Linked DNA regions of Homo sapiens: region 2 is linked to region 1. A link means that fine-mapping ties the variant in region 1 to the expression of a gene that starts in the linked region. Tissue or cell type: T cells. Region 1 holds a variant in brackets; the other region holds the start of a gene. All regions are shown on one strand. Distances are between the middles of the regions.

The links. PIP is the estimated chance that this variant, and not a neighbour inherited with it, causes the effect.
Region 2: it holds the start of VPS35L, and the variant in region 1 is fine-mapped to the expression of VPS35L in T cells (GENCORD, PIP 0.95).

What each region holds. Positions count from the first base shown.
Region 1 is chr16:19,621,659-19,625,658 of GRCh38, reverse strand. All of the region lies in intron 14 of VPS35L (VPS35 endosomal protein sorting factor like), which reads right to left. Among named protein-coding and RNA genes, the nearest start is that of VPS35L, 68 kb to the right of the region's middle. The variant CAATAATAATAATAATAAT/T (reference allele first, on the strand shown) is at 1,842.
Region 2 is chr16:19,553,488-19,557,658 of GRCh38, reverse strand. It overlaps VPS35L (VPS35 endosomal protein sorting factor like), which reads right to left and starts at 1,956. Exons shown (of 31, transcript NM_020314.7): 1 at 1,913-1,956. The coding sequence starts at 1,929. RefSeq lists enhancers at 1,272-1,501, 1,360-2,322, 1,882-2,361.

The sequences.
Region 1 (4,000 bases):
GTCCTGGCATCAGGCACACTTGGATTCAAATCCAACCTCACCAACTACCAATGATGAGACTTCGGAAGAGTTGCCAACTCTGTCGAACCTGGGTCTCCTTGTCCTTATTGAAAGGCTACAAGTGGTATCATCTCATCTGTGGGGTCACTACAGGATGATGGGAGATAACTCCTGCACTCCAGGGCATGAATGAGAACGATAATTACTCTGCTCCCCACCTCTTCTGTAACCCCACATTCTTCCCCATTTTAAGAGGTGCCCAAGGTGCACTTAGTAATATCAGCAACAAACACTGGGCTAGAGCTTAGTGCCCACCAGCCATGGTGAGAAGCACTTTGCACTCACGATCTTACCTCTCCCAACCACCCTTGAAGCAGGGGCTCTATTCTCCCATTTCACAGATGAAAAACAAAGCCACGAATAGCAGTGTTTTTCACCCAAGGTCGCACAGTTAGTGATGGCAGGCAGACATGAACCTGGGCAGACTGGGATCAAAGGCCACGTTCTTCAATACATTTCTTCTCCAACACAGTTTGAAGTCTATTTTCCCCGCCTCCGCCAAAGGAAGCAGATTTTTTTTTTTTAACTCATTGGAATACTGTTAATGGCTTTGGAGCTATCTTAAGACAATTACATATCTTTAAAAGAGCTCCTGTTTTTAAGAAAATCAATGGAAGAAGGATCATTTAGGGCAGTGGTTTGGGGAAGGTCAAGCCCAAGACCAGAGGTAATTACAGGACACTGAGCACTGCCCAGGTTTCGGGCTAAGTCCTTGACTTCCCTTTACTCTCTTACTCTTCACCATGTCCTTGTGAGGTCCATGGAACATTATCCCCATTTTACAGATGCAAAAGCCAAAGCTCAGACAGGGTTAAGACACTTCCTAATAAGTGGCAAAAATGGGATTTGTGCAGGCCAGGGGTGGTGGCTCATGCCTGTAATCCCAGCACTTTGGGAGGCTGAGGTGGGAAGCTCGCTTGAGCCCAGGAATTCAAGACCAGTCTGGGCAATATAGTGAGATCCCATCTCTACATAAGTATTTTTGTTTGTTTGTTTGTTTGTTTTTTGAGACAGAGAGACGAGTCTTACTCTGTTGCCCAGGCTGGAGTGCAGTGACGCGATCTCGGCTCACCAGAACCTCCGCCTCTTGGGTTCAAGAGATTCTCCTGCCTCAGCCTCCCGAGTAGCTGGGACTATAGGTGTGTGCCATCATGCCTGGCTAATTTTTTTGTATTTTTAGTAGAGATGGGGTTTCACCCTGTTAGCCAGGCTGGCCTTGAACTCCTGACCTCAGGCAATCTGCCCGCCTCAGCCCTGCAAAGTGCTGGGATTACAGGAGTGAGCCACCGCGCCCAGTCATAAAATTTTTTAAAAAATTAGCTGGGTGTGGTGGTACGTGCCTGTGGTCCCAGCTACTCAGGAGGCTGAGGTGGGAGGATCACTTGAGCCCAGGAGGTGGAGGCTGCAGTGAGCTGTGATTGTGCCACTGAACTCCAGCCTGGGCACCAGAGTGAGACCTATCTCAAAAAAAAAAAAAAAAAAAAAAAAAAAGACCTGGTAGGCACGATGGCTCATGCCTGTAATCCCAGCACTTTGAGAGGCTGATGGGGACAGATGGCTTGACCTTAGGAGTTCAAGACCAGTCTGGGCAACATGGCGAAACCTCATCTCTAAAAGAAATTTAAAAATTAGCCAAGCATGGTGGTGTGTGCTTATAGTCCCAGCTAGTCAGAAGGCTAAGGTGGGGGCATCACTTGAGCCTGGGAGGTCGAGACTGCAGTAAGCCAAGACTGCACCACAGCACTTCAGCCTGGGCAACAGAGCAAGACCCTGTCTTAAAA[CAATAATAATAATAATAAT/T]AATAATAATAATAATAATAATAATAATAATAAATAAATAAGTAAAAAGTAAAAAATAAAGAAAAAAAAGGGATCTATATCTACGTCTGGACCCAAAGTAAAAAAATAAAAGGAGGGTTCTTAAGTGCAATTCCACCCTTTCTGGTGGCACCCCTCTCTGTCATGTTGCCTGAATAAGTGAGAGCTGACGTTGGAGATACTGTTGGAATCCCTACCCCAAAACCCTGATTTTATTCAGATTTCCATCTATGCCTCACATAAACTAGGTTGGCTTCTGTCACGGACTGAATTATATCTCCCCTAAATTGCTATGTTGGAGCCCTAACCCCTAATATCACTATTCTAGGTTAAATGGAGTCATAAGGGTGGGATCCGAATCCCACAGGACTAACCTCCTTATAGGAAGAGACAGCAAGGATGCGTGTACACAGAGGAAAAGCCATGTGAGAACACGGCAAGAAGGTGGCAGTTTCCAAGCCAAGGAGAGAGGCCTCACCAGAAACCAACCTTGCTGGCCCCTTGATCTTGGTCTCCTAGCCTTCAGAACTATGAGAAAATAAAGTCTGTTGTTTAAGCTCCTAGTCTGGGTATTTTGTTAAGGGAGCCCAAGCAGATTAATACAGACCCAAACCAATCACAGTGGCTCTCGTTCCCCTTGCCCATGATCCATTTCTAGCTGCTGAGACAGGATGGGAAGTCTTCGGGGGGATTTGGAGAAAGGTTTCCTGTTCTTAAACAAGGACCCAAGAATCAAAGATTCCCTGGATGCTGTCGGCTCTGGACGTGATGCCTGGAATGGTTGCCCCCACCTTGCTACTAATCAGGGACAGCAGAGCAAAAAGATGCACTGAAGCTGATCACCCGAGAGCCTCCACTTGTTGTGGAGGAGGACACATGGAATTATATGTGGAGGCCAGACTAGTTAGATGTTTGTTCCTTGCAGCCAAAAGCACCCTAGCTGGTGACAAAATTGACCACATCATAAATGGCTTCCCTAACCCACTCTTGGGTATTTACATTTGAAAAGTCATTCTTAAAGACCAATAGCAAAGTGGCCTTTGGAAAAGGCTAAGAGAGGAAAAGAGATTCTGTGTAATCATCACACTGACACTCCCTGACACACAGAAATAATCATTCAACGCCTACCTAACGAGCAACTTTAGTATACAGTTGACCCTTGAATAACAACATGGTTTTGAGCTGCGTGGATCCACTTAGACACGGATTTTTTTCAACCATATGCTGAACGAAAATACAGTATTTGTGAGACACCAAACTCAAGTATACACGGGTTCCACAGGGCCAACTGTGAGACTGTGAGACTTGAGTCTCACAGCATGGATTTTGATATACGTGGGGGCCGGGCACAGTGGCTCACGCCTGTAATCCCAGCACTTTGGAGGCTCAGGTGGGTGGATCACCTGAGGTAAGGATTTCGAGACCAGCCTGGCCAAGATGATGAGACCCTGTCTCTACTAAAAATACAAAAATTAGCCGGGCGTGGTGGCGTGGCTGTAGTCCCAGTTACTTGGGAGGCTGAGGCAGGAGAACTGCTTGAACCCGGGAGGCAGAAGTTGCCATGAGTGGAGATCGGGCCATTGCACTCCAGCCTGGGTGACAGAGCAGGACTCCGTCTTAAAAAAAAAAAAAAAAAAAAAAGATATACATGGAGATCCTGGAATCAATCCCCTAAGTATACCAAGGGATGACTATACCAGCCACTGTTCCAGACACTGAGGGTAAGATGGGAGGAAAACACAGAAACCCATGCCTTCGTGAGGTTTACTGTATCTCATATGCATGCACGTGCACACACACATGCACACATACACACACACATAAATGAGACCTCCTGGCCCACCAATTCTGGAAAGATTAACTAGGGCAAATCCCAACATATGGACAAAAGATTCTTACCACTAAGACAAGTTAAATGCTTAAAAAGTTCCCTCTCTCACAAAAGATGAATGCACTAAAAATGCATCCAAGAATATAACTTTAAAAAACCAAAGGCTCTGTTGTCATAAAGGAACTTGGGAATACATGTAAGTGTTCGGAGAGCCAAATGTTATAGATCCTCGGGCAGGTCTGCTGGAGGTTACTGATTTTTTCCCCTCTAAGAAGTGACAGAATTGATTATC
Region 2 (4,171 bases), 68 kb after region 1:
GTAATCCCAGCACTTTGGGAACCCGAGGTCGGCGGATCACTTAAGGTCAGGAGTTCGAGACCAGCCTGGCCAACATGATGAAACACCGTCTCTACTAAAAATACAAAAATTAGCCTGGTGTGGTGGCATCGCCTGTAATCCCAGCTACTCGGGAGAGTGAGGCAAAGAATCACTTGAGCCGGGAGGCGGAGGTTGCGGTGAGCCAAGATCACGCCACTGCAATCAAGCCTGGGCGAGACTCCGTCTCAACAAAAACAACAACAACAAAATATTTAGAGCACGGCCATATTAGGAACTATAGAGACCCTAAATACTAAAAGCGTTATGGCACCTGTTTGCCTGCTTGTAATATAAAATTAAAATTCCAAAGGTAGAAATGTACTGGGATGCAGAGATTAAGACAGCATCTTCCTGGATTTTCTGATTGCAAACTTCAGATAAATCCACTGAAGTCAAATGTTTCTCATGTTTTTGGTTAGCTTTTTGGTCAAGCCAGCATGACTTTTTCATTTTTTATTATTATTTTTTTGAGACAGAGTCTCACTGTTGCCCAGGCTGGAGTGCAGTGGCATGATCTCGGTTCACTCCAGCTTCCGCCTCCCAGGTTCAAGCGACTCTCCTGCCTCACCCTCCCAAGTAGCTGGGATTACAGGTGCGTGCCACCACTAATTTAGCCCAGCTAATTTTTGTATTTTTAGTAGAGATTAGGTTTCGCCATGTTGGCCAGGCTGGTCTCGAACCCCTGACCTCAGGTGATCCGCCAGCCTCGGCCTCCCAAAGTGCTGGGATTACAGGCGTGAGCCACCATACCCAGCCAGCATGACTATTAACTGAAAAAAAAAAAAAAACCTCAGGGTGTGGAAGTGCTCAGAGGCATTCAATGCTGATGTAGCGTGTCAAGGAAGCAGTCTCTTAAGTGTTGGGCAAATGAAAGGAATAAGACAAAATGAAGTGTTTATCAAGCTCAAAAGCAGAAGGTTGTACCTGATTATTTCTAAGGTCTTTCATTTGCTCATTTAATCTAAGCTACTTCACATCATTTGAAGAGAAAGTAAATTATCTCGCTTTCTGAGATGCAGGAGAGATTCCCCGTCCCCAAATCCCACTATCATCAACAACACAACTTCCTCAAGTTCTTCACTCACACACATACCACCTGCTGAACCCTGAAGCTTCAGTCACTCATTCCTAGCTACTCCAACCACAAGGGACCTACGGGCCTGCCAACCAGGCACACGCCACGCCCTCCCTATGGTGGACTCCTATTCATCCTCCAAGACCCAATTTAACTCCTCCTCTCTGAAGCCTTCCCCTAGCCCCCTGGTGGGGATAATCACTCCCTTCTTGGTGCCTCATCCGAATGCCTTCTTTAGACATCCCTCTACTGTGCGTCTGCCCCATTATACTGTCAGCTCCTTGAGGCCAAGGAATAAGTCTGAGGGCTGTGCCTAGGATAGGATGAATGGCGGCCATTTTACAGATGAGAAAAGCAAGTCTCCAGGTGAACAGAGGAGCTGAGGAAACTGACCAACAGCCAGATCTCCCGACTCGTCCAGACTTTAAAAGCTGAGTCCACCATTACCCTCATCCAGCGACCCCAGAACCCGCGCCAACTTCTGGGGACGCGGAAGCCTGGAAACTCAAGTTTTCTTTAGGGAATGAATGGACAGGGGCCCGTGGAAGGCGCAGAGAGGCAGCAGACGGGGAGAGAACCAAGAACCCGCCAGTCTGGCTTCAGATTGCTCCGCTGGACCGCGGTAGCGGCCAGGGATTCTACGGTCAAGACAACTTGGGGGTGGCCGGTCGACCACCAGAACCCGACAGAGAGGAATTCACACTCTCAGACCCAGGCCGACCCCATCACAAGTAAGGACAGCCCCTCTCCAAAGCCCACCCGCCGCTGCTTCCTTACCAAGGAAAGACGGCCATCTTCCCAGTCACATGACCGCTTGTTCTGGGGCCGTCTGCTCGGCTTCCCATCCTTACCCCGCCACTCCCCGCACCCCTCGGCCGCCATGTTTGTGAAGGGCAGCTGGCCGCCCCGCAGCGGCCGCACAGCACCTTCTGCAGACGCCATGCTTGTGAGGGGCAGGCGACGCTCCGCACAGCACAGGCTTCATTTTCAGCTGACGCCATGCTTGTGAGGGGCAGCTCCCCGCTCCGGACAGCCCGGGTTACAACTCCCGCCGGCGCCATGCTTCGGAGGAGCAACGTCGGCCACGGCCAGAGTGCCGTAGTTTCTATGAGTCATGATTGTAAAGGGCAGCTGTCTACAGTGCCGGGTGGTCCCGCCTGCGGGCGTCATGATGGTAAAGGGCATGACTGCTGCTTAGCTCACCTGCGTCCTCTAGGGGCAGAAAGGACTCCAGAAGGCGGCGGAGCGAAGACGCAAACTGAGGTTCAGCCAGTACCTGGTTTTGCGGCTAATACGCTGTTTGGCGTGGGACAGCCATGCCCCCTCTAGGCCGCTGCTTTACCCACTGCTTTGCGGGCGGTTTTAGACACTTGCAGAATGCCCTTCCCACGACTAGCAACCGAGGGCTGCCCTAGATCTAATATGATTGACTACAGCTAATGCACGTGGGGAAATTAGGGTTCGCATTTCGTCCAACTTGGCAAAGCAGTGTTTCTAGGAAGGTGGATATCCATTTCGACCACAGAACGTTTTTAAAAATTATTTTAGGCCGGGAGCGGTGGCTCAGGCCTATGATCCCAGAACTTCGGGAGGCCGAGGTGGGTGGTTCACCTGATGTCAGGAGTTCGGGACCAGCCTGGCCAACATGGTGAAACCCCGTCTCTACTAAAAAATACAAAAACTAGTTGGGTATGGTGGCGGGCGCCTGTAATCCCAGCTACTCGGGAGGCTGAGGCAGGAGAATTGCTCCAACCCGGGAGGATGAGGTTGCAGTGAGCCGAGATTGCGCCATTGCACTCCAGCCTGGGCTACAAGAGCGAAACTCCATCTCAAAAAAAAATTTTTTTTTTAATTATTACTTTTATAACTTACTTAGATATCCATTATGGTCCCTTAGAGAGAAAGCATTCGATGTTTTTATAACTCTTACTTTTCATTCGGGGGTGGTGGTCTGTGGTTGTTCATGAGATGGTGACCTATGACAGGGAAAAGGATCATCTCCAGAACGGGCCCTCCAGTGTTCAGCTCAGTATGAGTAGGAAAGTATATCCACTCGTACCTGCTATTCCCAACACTGGAAGTGAACAAGGGTTAAAGGGTGGCCACGGGAAAGCAAGGAGCTCTTCCCATACAGCCATGCATGTTATCACATGCAACATCTCAATAAGAGGTCAAGGTGAGGAGCCTTTTCCTAGGCTCACACTGCATGATTAGGCAGTAACAAGAGGAGGATTCTTAAAGTTGTGCAAATTAACAGCTTTGATGTGAGCTTCAACCTTCGCATTCTCTTTTCTCCCTCTCCTTCCCTTAGCAGGCTTCTATCTCTTAATAAGTTAAGACATTTCCAGCCTGAGTTTTACCTTCTGAAAAGTCCAACTTTTAGTAGAGACGGGGTTTCACTATGTTGGCCAGGCTGGTCTCAAACTCCTGACCTCAGGTGATCCTCCCGCCTTGGCCTCCCAAAGTGTTGGGATTACAGGCGTGAGCCACTGCACCTGGCCCAGGGGACATATTAAATAATGAGATATATCTTTCATGGAACTTGTAAAGAATGATTATATACAATATTTGTTTTGGCCTAATACTTTTCAATATCTGTTTCTTTTTTCTTTTTTGTTTTGGAGACAAAGTCTCATTCAGGCTGGAGTGCAGTGGTGCGATTATAGCTCACTGCCACCTGTAACTCCTGGGTTCAAGTGATCCTCCTGCCTCAGCCTCCAGCGTACCTAGGACTACAGATGTGAACCACCATGCCTGGCTAATATCGGTTTCTTTTTTGTTTTGTTTTGAGATGGAGTCTTGCTCTGTCACCCAGGCTGCAGTGCAGTGGCACAATCTCGGCTCACTATAGCCTCCCCATCCCAGGCTCAGGCGATTCTCCTGCTTCAGCCTCCCAAGTAGCTGGAACTACAGGCATGCACCACTACGCCCAGCTAATTTTGTATTTTTAGTAGAGACGGGGTTTCACCATGTTAGCCAGGCTGATCTCAAACTCCTGATCTCATGATCCACCCACCTTGGCCTCCCAAAGTGCTA